2 separate regions of the Homo sapiens genome follow, and region 2 is linked to region 1. The links come from fine-mapping of genetic effects on gene expression. A gene starts in region 1. The other region holds a variant in brackets. All regions are shown on one strand. Distances are from middle to middle.

Region 1 (4,249 bases):
TGTGCCATCTGTGCAATGTGCAGGTGCCAGTTGCATGTGCCATGCGTGTTGGCCGTGAGCGTGTGCTGTTTTCGTGTATGTGCCATGCACGTATGTGCTGCGTGTTGGCCGTGCACGTGTGCCACGTGCATGTGTGCCATTTGTGTATGCCGTGTGTGCTGTGAGCGTATGCTGTGCGCATGTGCGTGCCATGTGCTTTGCGTGTACCATGTGTGTGCTGTTTGCATGTGCCATTTGTGTCATGCACGTGCCATTTGCGTGCGATGCGCGTGTGCCACACGTCGTTTGCTTGCGTGCCATGCATGTGTGGCATTTGTGTATGTGCCGTTTCCGTGTGTATTGTGTGTGCCGTGTGTGTGCCATTTGCATGTGCCGTTTTGTGTGTGCCATGCGCGTGTGCCATGCACTTGCCGTGCGTGTGCCATTTGTGTGTACCATGCGCATGTGCCATTCGTGTGCACCGTACACGTGTGCCATTTGCATGTATGCTGTGCACGTGTGGCATGCATGTGTGCCGTTTGCATGCCATGCATGTGTTCCTTGCGTGTGCCGTGCGTGTCCCATGCACGTGTGCCGTGCATGTGCCATTCGCGTGTACCATGCGCATGTGCCGTTTGTGTGTGTGCCGCATTCCTGTGCTCGTGTGCCAGGTTCGCATGTGCGCCATATTCACGTGTGCTCAGCATGTGCCATATGCATGTGCGGTGGTAGTGTGTGTCCCTCACAGGTCCTCCTCACAACACCATGGGGAAGAAGCACCAGCCAGGGCACACCTCCTGGTATCTGCTAGGTCTGCCAGGCCCTAGCTGAAGCTGAGTGCCCCCCAGTTCCCCTGGGAGGGCCTGCGCCTGGAGTCTGCTGTGTCCCCGAGGGCACCCCCAAAGCAACACAGAGGCAGAGGAGTCCCGGCCCTGCACACCTGGTGCTGCTCCAGCTGCCGCTCATTTGCCTGTGGCCCTTCCTCCCTTGTTTGCGTGCCCCCCTGGCAAACAAACTCTACCCCCAGCAGGAGCCACCTGTGTGCCTGCCACGCAGGAGTGGCCCAGACGGGGGTCAGCAGTGTGAGTACAGCTGGCCATGCGGTTCCTACAGCTTCCAGGCGTCAGACTCTGGCAGAAGGGCTGAGACCCTCAAGGAACTCTGCTCCCAAGCAGACTGGGAGGGCAGCACCACCACCCCAGGGCCCTCCCCAGCTGCAGGGTGGAGGCCTGGCTGGCCGGCTGCCCACTGGCCTGACTGGTCTGCAGGCCTAGGGGGCCCATCCCTGCTGCCCCCGGCTCCGGCCAGCACAGCCTTGAGTGGGAGCCAGAAGCTCCCGGGGCTGGGTAGGAGGCATTTCTGTGCTTATGAAAAGCCCCAGGGCTGGGTGTCTCTGCATCCCTCCCACGCAGCTGAGACCTCAGAGCCCTGGAGGCCCCTTTGCCCCCTCTCCTCTCCACAGCCTGCTGGGCAACTCCAGGAATCGGGGGGTGGCAAGGGGCTCAGCCACAGGCAGGGAACAAGGCCACGGCCAGCAACTGAGCAGAGCCTGCCTGCCGGTCAACGCTGGCCATAGAGCCTGGCAGTGGCCTCAGGCAGAGTCTGACGCGCACAAACTTTCAGGCCCAGGAAGCGAGGACACCACTGGGGCCCCAGGGTGTGGCAAGTGAGGATGGCAAGGGTTTTGCTAAACAAATCCTCTGCCCGCTCCCCGCCCCGGGCTCACTCCATGTGAGGCCCCAGTCGGGGCAGCCACCTGCCGTGCCTGTTGGAAGTTGCCTCTGCCATGCTGGGCCCTGCTGTCCTGGGCCTCAGCCTCTGGGCTCTCCTGCACCCTGGGACGGGGGCCCCATTGTGCCTGTCACAGCAACTTAGGATGAAGGGGGACTACGTGCTGGGGGGGCTGTTCCCCCTGGGCGAGGCCGAGGAGGCTGGCCTCCGCAGCCGGACACGGCCCAGCAGCCCTGTGTGCACCAGGTACAGAGGTGGGACGGCCTGGGTCGGGGTCAGGGTGACCAGGTCTGGGGTGCTCCTGAGCTGGGGCCGAGGTGGCCATCTGCGGTTCTGTGTGGCCCCAGGTTCTCCTCAAACGGCCTGCTCTGGGCACTGGCCATGAAAATGGCCGTGGAGGAGATCAACAACAAGTCGGATCTGCTGCCCGGGCTGCGCCTGGGCTACGACCTCTTTGATACGTGCTCGGAGCCTGTGGTGGCCATGAAGCCCAGCCTCATGTTCCTGGCCAAGGCAGGCAGCCGCGACATCGCCGCCTACTGCAACTACACGCAGTACCAGCCCCGTGTGCTGGCTGTCATCGGGCCCCACTCGTCAGAGCTCGCCATGGTCACCGGCAAGTTCTTCAGCTTCTTCCTCATGCCCCAGGTGGGCGCCCCCCACCATCACCCACCCCCACCCAGCCCTGCCCGTGGGAGCCCCTGTGTCAGGAGATGCCTCTTGGCCCTTGCAGGTCAGCTACGGTGCTAGCATGGAGCTGCTGAGCGCCCGGGAGACCTTCCCCTCCTTCTTCCGCACCGTGCCCAGCGACCGTGTGCAGCTGACGGCCGCCGCGGAGCTGCTGCAGGAGTTCGGCTGGAACTGGGTGGCCGCCCTGGGCAGCGACGACGAGTACGGCCGGCAGGGCCTGAGCATCTTCTCGGCCCTGGCCGCGGCACGCGGCATCTGCATCGCGCACGAGGGCCTGGTGCCGCTGCCCCGTGCCGATGACTCGCGGCTGGGGAAGGTGCAGGACGTCCTGCACCAGGTGAACCAGAGCAGCGTGCAGGTGGTGCTGCTGTTCGCCTCCGTGCACGCCGCCCACGCCCTCTTCAACTACAGCATCAGCAGCAGGCTCTCGCCCAAGGTGTGGGTGGCCAGCGAGGCCTGGCTGACCTCTGACCTGGTCATGGGGCTGCCCGGCATGGCCCAGATGGGCACGGTGCTTGGCTTCCTCCAGAGGGGTGCCCAGCTGCACGAGTTCCCCCAGTACGTGAAGACGCACCTGGCCCTGGCCACCGACCCGGCCTTCTGCTCTGCCCTGGGCGAGAGGGAGCAGGGTCTGGAGGAGGACGTGGTGGGCCAGCGCTGCCCGCAGTGTGACTGCATCACGCTGCAGAACGTGAGCGCAGGGCTAAATCACCACCAGACGTTCTCTGTCTACGCAGCTGTGTATAGCGTGGCCCAGGCCCTGCACAACACTCTTCAGTGCAACGCCTCAGGCTGCCCCGCGCAGGACCCCGTGAAGCCCTGGCAGGTGAGCCCGGGAGATGGGGGTGTGCTGTCCTCTGCATGTGCCCAGGCCACCAGGCACGGCCACCACGCCTGAGCTGGAGGTGGCTGGCGGCTCAGCCCCGTCCCCCGCCCGCAGCTCCTGGAGAACATGTACAACCTGACCTTCCACGTGGGCGGGCTGCCGCTGCGGTTCGACAGCAGCGGAAACGTGGACATGGAGTACGACCTGAAGCTGTGGGTGTGGCAGGGCTCAGTGCCCAGGCTCCACGACGTGGGCAGGTTCAACGGCAGCCTCAGGACAGAGCGCCTGAAGATCCGCTGGCACACGTCTGACAACCAGGTGAGGTGAGGGTGGGTGTGCCAGGCGTGCCCGTGGTAGCCCCCGCGGCAGGGCGCAGCCTGGGGGTGGGGGCCGTTCCAGTCTCCCGTGGGCATGCCCAGCCGAGCAGAGCCAGACCCCAGGCCTGTGCGCAGAAGCCCGTGTCCCGGTGCTCGCGGCAGTGCCAGGAGGGCCAGGTGCGCCGGGTCAAGGGGTTCCACTCCTGCTGCTACGACTGTGTGGACTGCGAGGCGGGCAGCTACCGGCAAAACCCAGGTGAGCCGCCTTCCCGGCAGGCGGGGGTGGGAACGCAGCAGGGGAGGGTCCTGCCAAGTCCTGACTCTGAGACCAGAGCCCACAGGGTACAAGACGAACACCCAGCGCCCTTCTCCTCTCTCACAGACGACATCGCCTGCACCTTTTGTGGCCAGGATGAGTGGTCCCCGGAGCGAAGCACACGCTGCTTCCGCCGCAGGTCTCGGTTCCTGGCATGGGGCGAGCCGGCTGTGCTGCTGCTGCTCCTGCTGCTGAGCCTGGCGCTGGGCCTTGTGCTGGCTGCTTTGGGGCTGTTCGTTCACCATCGGGACAGCCCACTGGTTCAGGCCTCGGGGGGGCCCCTGGCCTGCTTTGGCCTGGTGTGCCTGGGCCTGGTCTGCCTCAGCGTCCTCCTGTTCCCTGGCCAGCCCAGCCCTGCCCGATGCCTGGCCCAGCAGCCCTTGTCCCACC
Region 2 (4,249 bases), 30 kb before region 1:
CAGCCGCATCAGCAGCAGGAGCCGAGACTGGTGGGAGGTGTCCTTGGTGCTGAAGTGCCCTTGGGGTAGAGGAGGGAAAGGCACCGCCCCATCTGGTCTCCCCCGACCCACAGCCCGCCCAGGGCCCGTGCTCACTTACCTGCAGCAGCGTCTGGAGGGCCGGAGCAGGAGGGGGTAGGGGGAGAAAGCCAGTGAGTGACGGCTGCCAACTCCTGGTGACTGGTGGACCCGTCCCCAACTCCTGGTGACTGGTGGACCCGTCCCCAACTCCTGGGGGGCTCTCCCCTATCCCAAAATAGCCACTCCTGCCTGCAGCCAACCTCTGCCCGGGATGGTGGCCGGGGCTGCTGTCCCACAGGCAAGCAAAGGCCCCGCAAGGAGCCAGTGACTGAGGCCACAGAGGTGACCACCGCCTCAAAAGGAGATCCCAGCAGCGGCCCCACCCACACGTGCCCCTCCACTGCACACATCAAAGGGAGCAGCCTTGGTCCCCTAGAGAGGGTGTGGGCAGGGCAGGTGGGAGACAGGCAGGAGGAAGGGGCGGGGAGGGTGTGCCGGGCATGGGGTGAGGACGCAGGGGCCTCCCAGGCGCCTGGTGTGCAGGGAGCCGGCTGCGCGGCCTCACCCGCTGCTGGATGGCGGCGTGCTTTCGCTCCATCTCACGCTTTTCCACCGCAGAGTCGATCACCAGCTGGTCCAGCTGTTGGGGGTGGCATTAGGGAAGGTCACGGAGGCCTGGCCCAGCCCCACCCCTCCCAAAGGCTCACCTCGGCTGCCAGCTTCTTCATGTAGGGGTCCAGCTGGTGCAGGAGGCTGTAGCCCTGCTGGAAGAAGCTGGACTGGGCGTGCATGAAGGACAGCATCTGCGGGGGCAGCACAGGTGAGGCCCAAGCACACCCGGTCCAGCCCCCAACATGCAGCCTGTGCTCAGGGGCAGCCCCCACGCACTCACAGAGTCCAGGATCTCAAACTTCTTCTTGGCCTGCAGAACATTGATCTGCCAGAGGGGGAGCCCACAGGTGAGCCCCGGAGGCTGAGGCAGCCCCAAGCCCTGCACCTGCCATAGAGTCCACCTGAGCTGCTTGTGGTTCCCTGAGACCCCCAGGTCGTCTTCAGCTCCCAGCTCTGGGCCAGCCTCATCCTCCCATGGTCCTGGACTGCTTCCCCATGTCTGGAGTTCCCACCCATGGGCAAAGCAAGAATCGTCACTCCTGCTCAAAATCCCTCCAGTTCTGTACAAGGCCGTTGAGGCCTCCATTCGCTACAGCTGGTCCCCGCCCCCCAGCCCATTTCTGGGGCTGACCTGGAGCACATAGTCCAGTGCCAGGTGGCGGAAGCACTTCCTGGTGAGGGTGAGGGCCCCGGTGGCTTCCTCCACCTCGTGGGGCCGGTGCCTCGGGGCCTGGGCGTTCCTCACCAGGGACAGCTCCAGGTCCTCCCGCACCTTGTCAAACTGCTTCTTTGTCTCCTTGAACTTCCGCACATCCCTGGAGGCCAAGTGCCAGGTGGGGTGAGAGATCAGGGAGGGCACCTGCTGGATCCTGGAGTCTCCCACATCGTTGTTTGTGTGTTTTTTGTTTTTTGAGACGGAGTTTCGCTCTTGTCACCCAGGCTGGAGTGCAATGGTGCTGTCTCGGCTCACCGCAATCTCTGCCTCGCGAGTTCAAGTGATTCTCCTGCCTCAGCTTCCCTAGCAGCTGGGATTACAGGCATGCGCCACCAGGCCTAATTTTGTATTTTTAGTAGAGATGGGGTTTCTCCAGGTTGGTCAGGCTGGTCTTGAACTCCCGACCTCAGGTGATTCACCCACCTCGGTCTCCCAACGTGCTGGGATTACAGGCGTGAGCCACTGCGCCTGGCCTGGTTTTGTTTGTTTGAGACAGGGTCTGTCTCTGTTGCCCAGGCTGGAGGCTGGAGTGCAGTGGCACAGTTATGGCTCACTGCAGCCTCTACCTCCCAGGCTCAAGCAATTCTCCCACCTCGGCCTCCCAAGTAGCTGAGGCTACAGGTGCGTGCCACCATATAAGGCTTATTTTTGGTTCTTGGGGGTGT[C/CT]TTTTTTTTTTTTTTTTTTTTTGATGGAGTCTCTCTCTGTCACCCAGGCTGGAGTGCAGTAGCACAATCATGGCTCACTGCTGCCTCCGCCTCCTGGGCTCAACTGATCCTCCCACCTCATCCTCCTGAATAGCTGGGACCATAGGCACGTGCCACCATGCCCATCTAATTTTTTTTTTTTTTTTTTTTTGTAGAGATGGAGGTCTCATTACGTTGCCCAGGCTGGTCTCAAACTCCTGGCATTCTCTGGCCTTGGCCTCCCAAACGCTGGGATTACAGGTGTGAGCCACCATGCCCAGCCCCACCCCCCTCCACTCCAGGCCCTTTCTTTGCTCCTGGGCATAGCCTCCTTCCTCACCAGCCTATCCCAGGCCTGCCCGCACCCCTGCTGACCCCGATCATCTGCTCCAGGCCTCCCCAGCCCCTCCCCACCTCACTCTCAAGATCTGTCCAGCCCAGACCCCAGCCATGCCCCAGACTCCAGACCCCCAAACCCAACGTGGACTGGACCTCTCTGCTGTGGGGGCTGGACACCCCACCCACACATGCAGGGTGTGGAACCCCCCGCACTCCACCCGGCTGTCTGCCTCTGAGCCTTCTGCCTTGTGGAGCCGCTGCACAGCCTGGAGGCCTGGGCCCAAGGTGCCTCTGCTCTGCCCCAGACCCCCTTCCCCTCCAAGGGAGGGAGCGTGGCCTCAGTGTTCTTCCCCCAGCCCTGGGGGCCACTCACTCTTTGACAAAGCTCTGGAGCTGCTGCCGCACGGACCTCTGGGCCTGGTCAAACAGGATCTGGGGGCAGAGGCGGGCAGAGATCCTTGGGGTCTGTCCCGAAAGAGCCCCAGATGGAAGGCCCCATCCTCACCAGCAGAGGGCACTGCCCCCAGGCCCAGATGCAGGGGCGGGTCCCACCCTGCAGGGCTGGCCTCAAGGGGGTCAGGGGAGCAGCCCCCAGGCCTGAGTTGGCACTCAGAGGCGATGGCTGTCACCCCTGCCCCTCTGTCCCACCTGGCCCTTGATGAGTGCAGAGGCCAAGGCTGCCTCATCACAGCCTGAGCCGGAGCCCCACTGCCTCCTGGCCCTGGGCGGCCACCCTGGGGTGCCCATCCCTGCAGCAGGGAGCACTCAGCCAGAGCCGGGAGCACCCAGGGGCTGGGCCTGGGGAGCTGGAGCCTGGGCTCTGAATCGGAACCCGAAGTAGAGAAGGACCGGGCACAACCAGGAGCAAAGGGACGGCTGAGCCATCCTGCCTTGTCTACTTCGGGACCTCCTCTGTTCAGTCTGCGGCTCAGGTTCCCAGGCTGCAGCCCCACATCTCACGGGTGCCTGTCCTGTGTGTCCATCCACGTCAGTGCCAGGGCCCCCGGGGGCCACCCAGACCCAAATGGCAGCCAGGCCAGCCTGGGACGAGAGCCCTGCCCAGTTGGGGGAACCCTGGATAAACCACCCCTCCCCCAGGGTCTAGTGTGGCCCTTGCCTGGGACACGGCAGAGCCCCCAGGGCTGTCCCCCAACCCCACACTGACTTGAAAATGTGGGATTCCCCCCCCCCCCGACTAGAGGAGCAGAAACGTGCCCCCCCCAACCCGACGCCGGCCTTCAGGTGAGCCAGCGCAGCTCGGTTCCAGGCCAGGCACAGCCCACAGGTGGCAGGGAGGCCGCGCTCACCATGTGGTAGTTCACCACCTCCTGTAGGCTGTCAGCGAACCTCTGCAGACATTCCTGGAGGAGCAGATGGGAACCCGTGCTGAGATGGCAAATCCGGGCCCAGGTCACCCAGCCACGCCCTCTGAGCCCCTGGGCGGTGCAGACACCGGCCTGCTTCTGGCCTGGACGCCCTCAAGGGGCTGCCTCCCTCGGCCTCTCCCCCAACCCCACCTTGAGGTCAGAGGTCAGTCGGCCCCTCACCGAGATGACGGTGTCGCCCTGGCACTGCTGGGACAGGTCGCGGACGCCGCTCACGAAAAGCCTGCTGGTGCTGACGTAGGCCTTACCGGCTTCCACCATGCCACTGCACAGCTTCACCAGCTGTGGGCCAGCGGGGCGTGGTGAGCACAGTGGGCACTGGCGCCTGCACTCGCCACCACACACGGCCACTCAGAGGCAGGAAGAGCTCCCAGGGTAGGTTCCACTCAGGGCGTTGGCACTCAGGACTCAGTGCCCCGGTGCAGCTTCCTCACGCCTGGGCCTGCCTGGGGCTT

Which allele goes with the higher level. Alleles are on the strand shown, and positions count from the first base shown. SD is a standard deviation of normalised expression in the study named.
For the expression in memory regulatory T cells of the gene that starts at base 1,700 in region 1, allele CT in region 2 goes with a higher level than allele C (large effect, 1.5 SD a copy in Schmiedel 2018).

Evidence for each region. PIP is the estimated chance that this variant, and not a neighbour inherited with it, causes the effect. A credible set is the group of variants that fine-mapping cannot tell apart.
Region 2: its variant is the best candidate, but not a certain one, in a credible set for the expression of TAS1R3 in memory regulatory T cells (Schmiedel 2018, PIP 0.55).

Annotation. Positions count from the first base shown.
Region 1 is chr1:1,329,581-1,333,829 of GRCh38, forward strand. It overlaps TAS1R3 (taste 1 receptor member 3), which reads left to right and starts at 1,700. Exons shown (of 6, transcript NM_152228.3): 1 at 1,700-1,956; 2 at 2,058-2,358; 3 at 2,444-3,226; 4 at 3,341-3,544; 5 at 3,679-3,799; 6 at 3,926-4,249. The coding sequence starts at 1,766.
Region 2 is chr1:1,299,206-1,303,454 of GRCh38, forward strand. It overlaps ACAP3 (ArfGAP with coiled-coil, ankyrin repeat and PH domains 3), which reads right to left. Exons shown (of 24, transcript NM_030649.3): 3 at 3,957-4,076; 4 at 3,717-3,770; 5 at 2,783-2,841; 6 at 1,304-1,487; 7 at 953-997; 8 at 768-863; 9 at 626-700; 10 at 140-151. Among named protein-coding and RNA genes, the nearest start is that of SNORD167, 3.5 kb to the right of the region's middle. RefSeq lists enhancers at 2,566-3,167, 3,168-3,767, 3,768-4,249. The variant C/CT (reference allele first, on the strand shown) is at 2,053.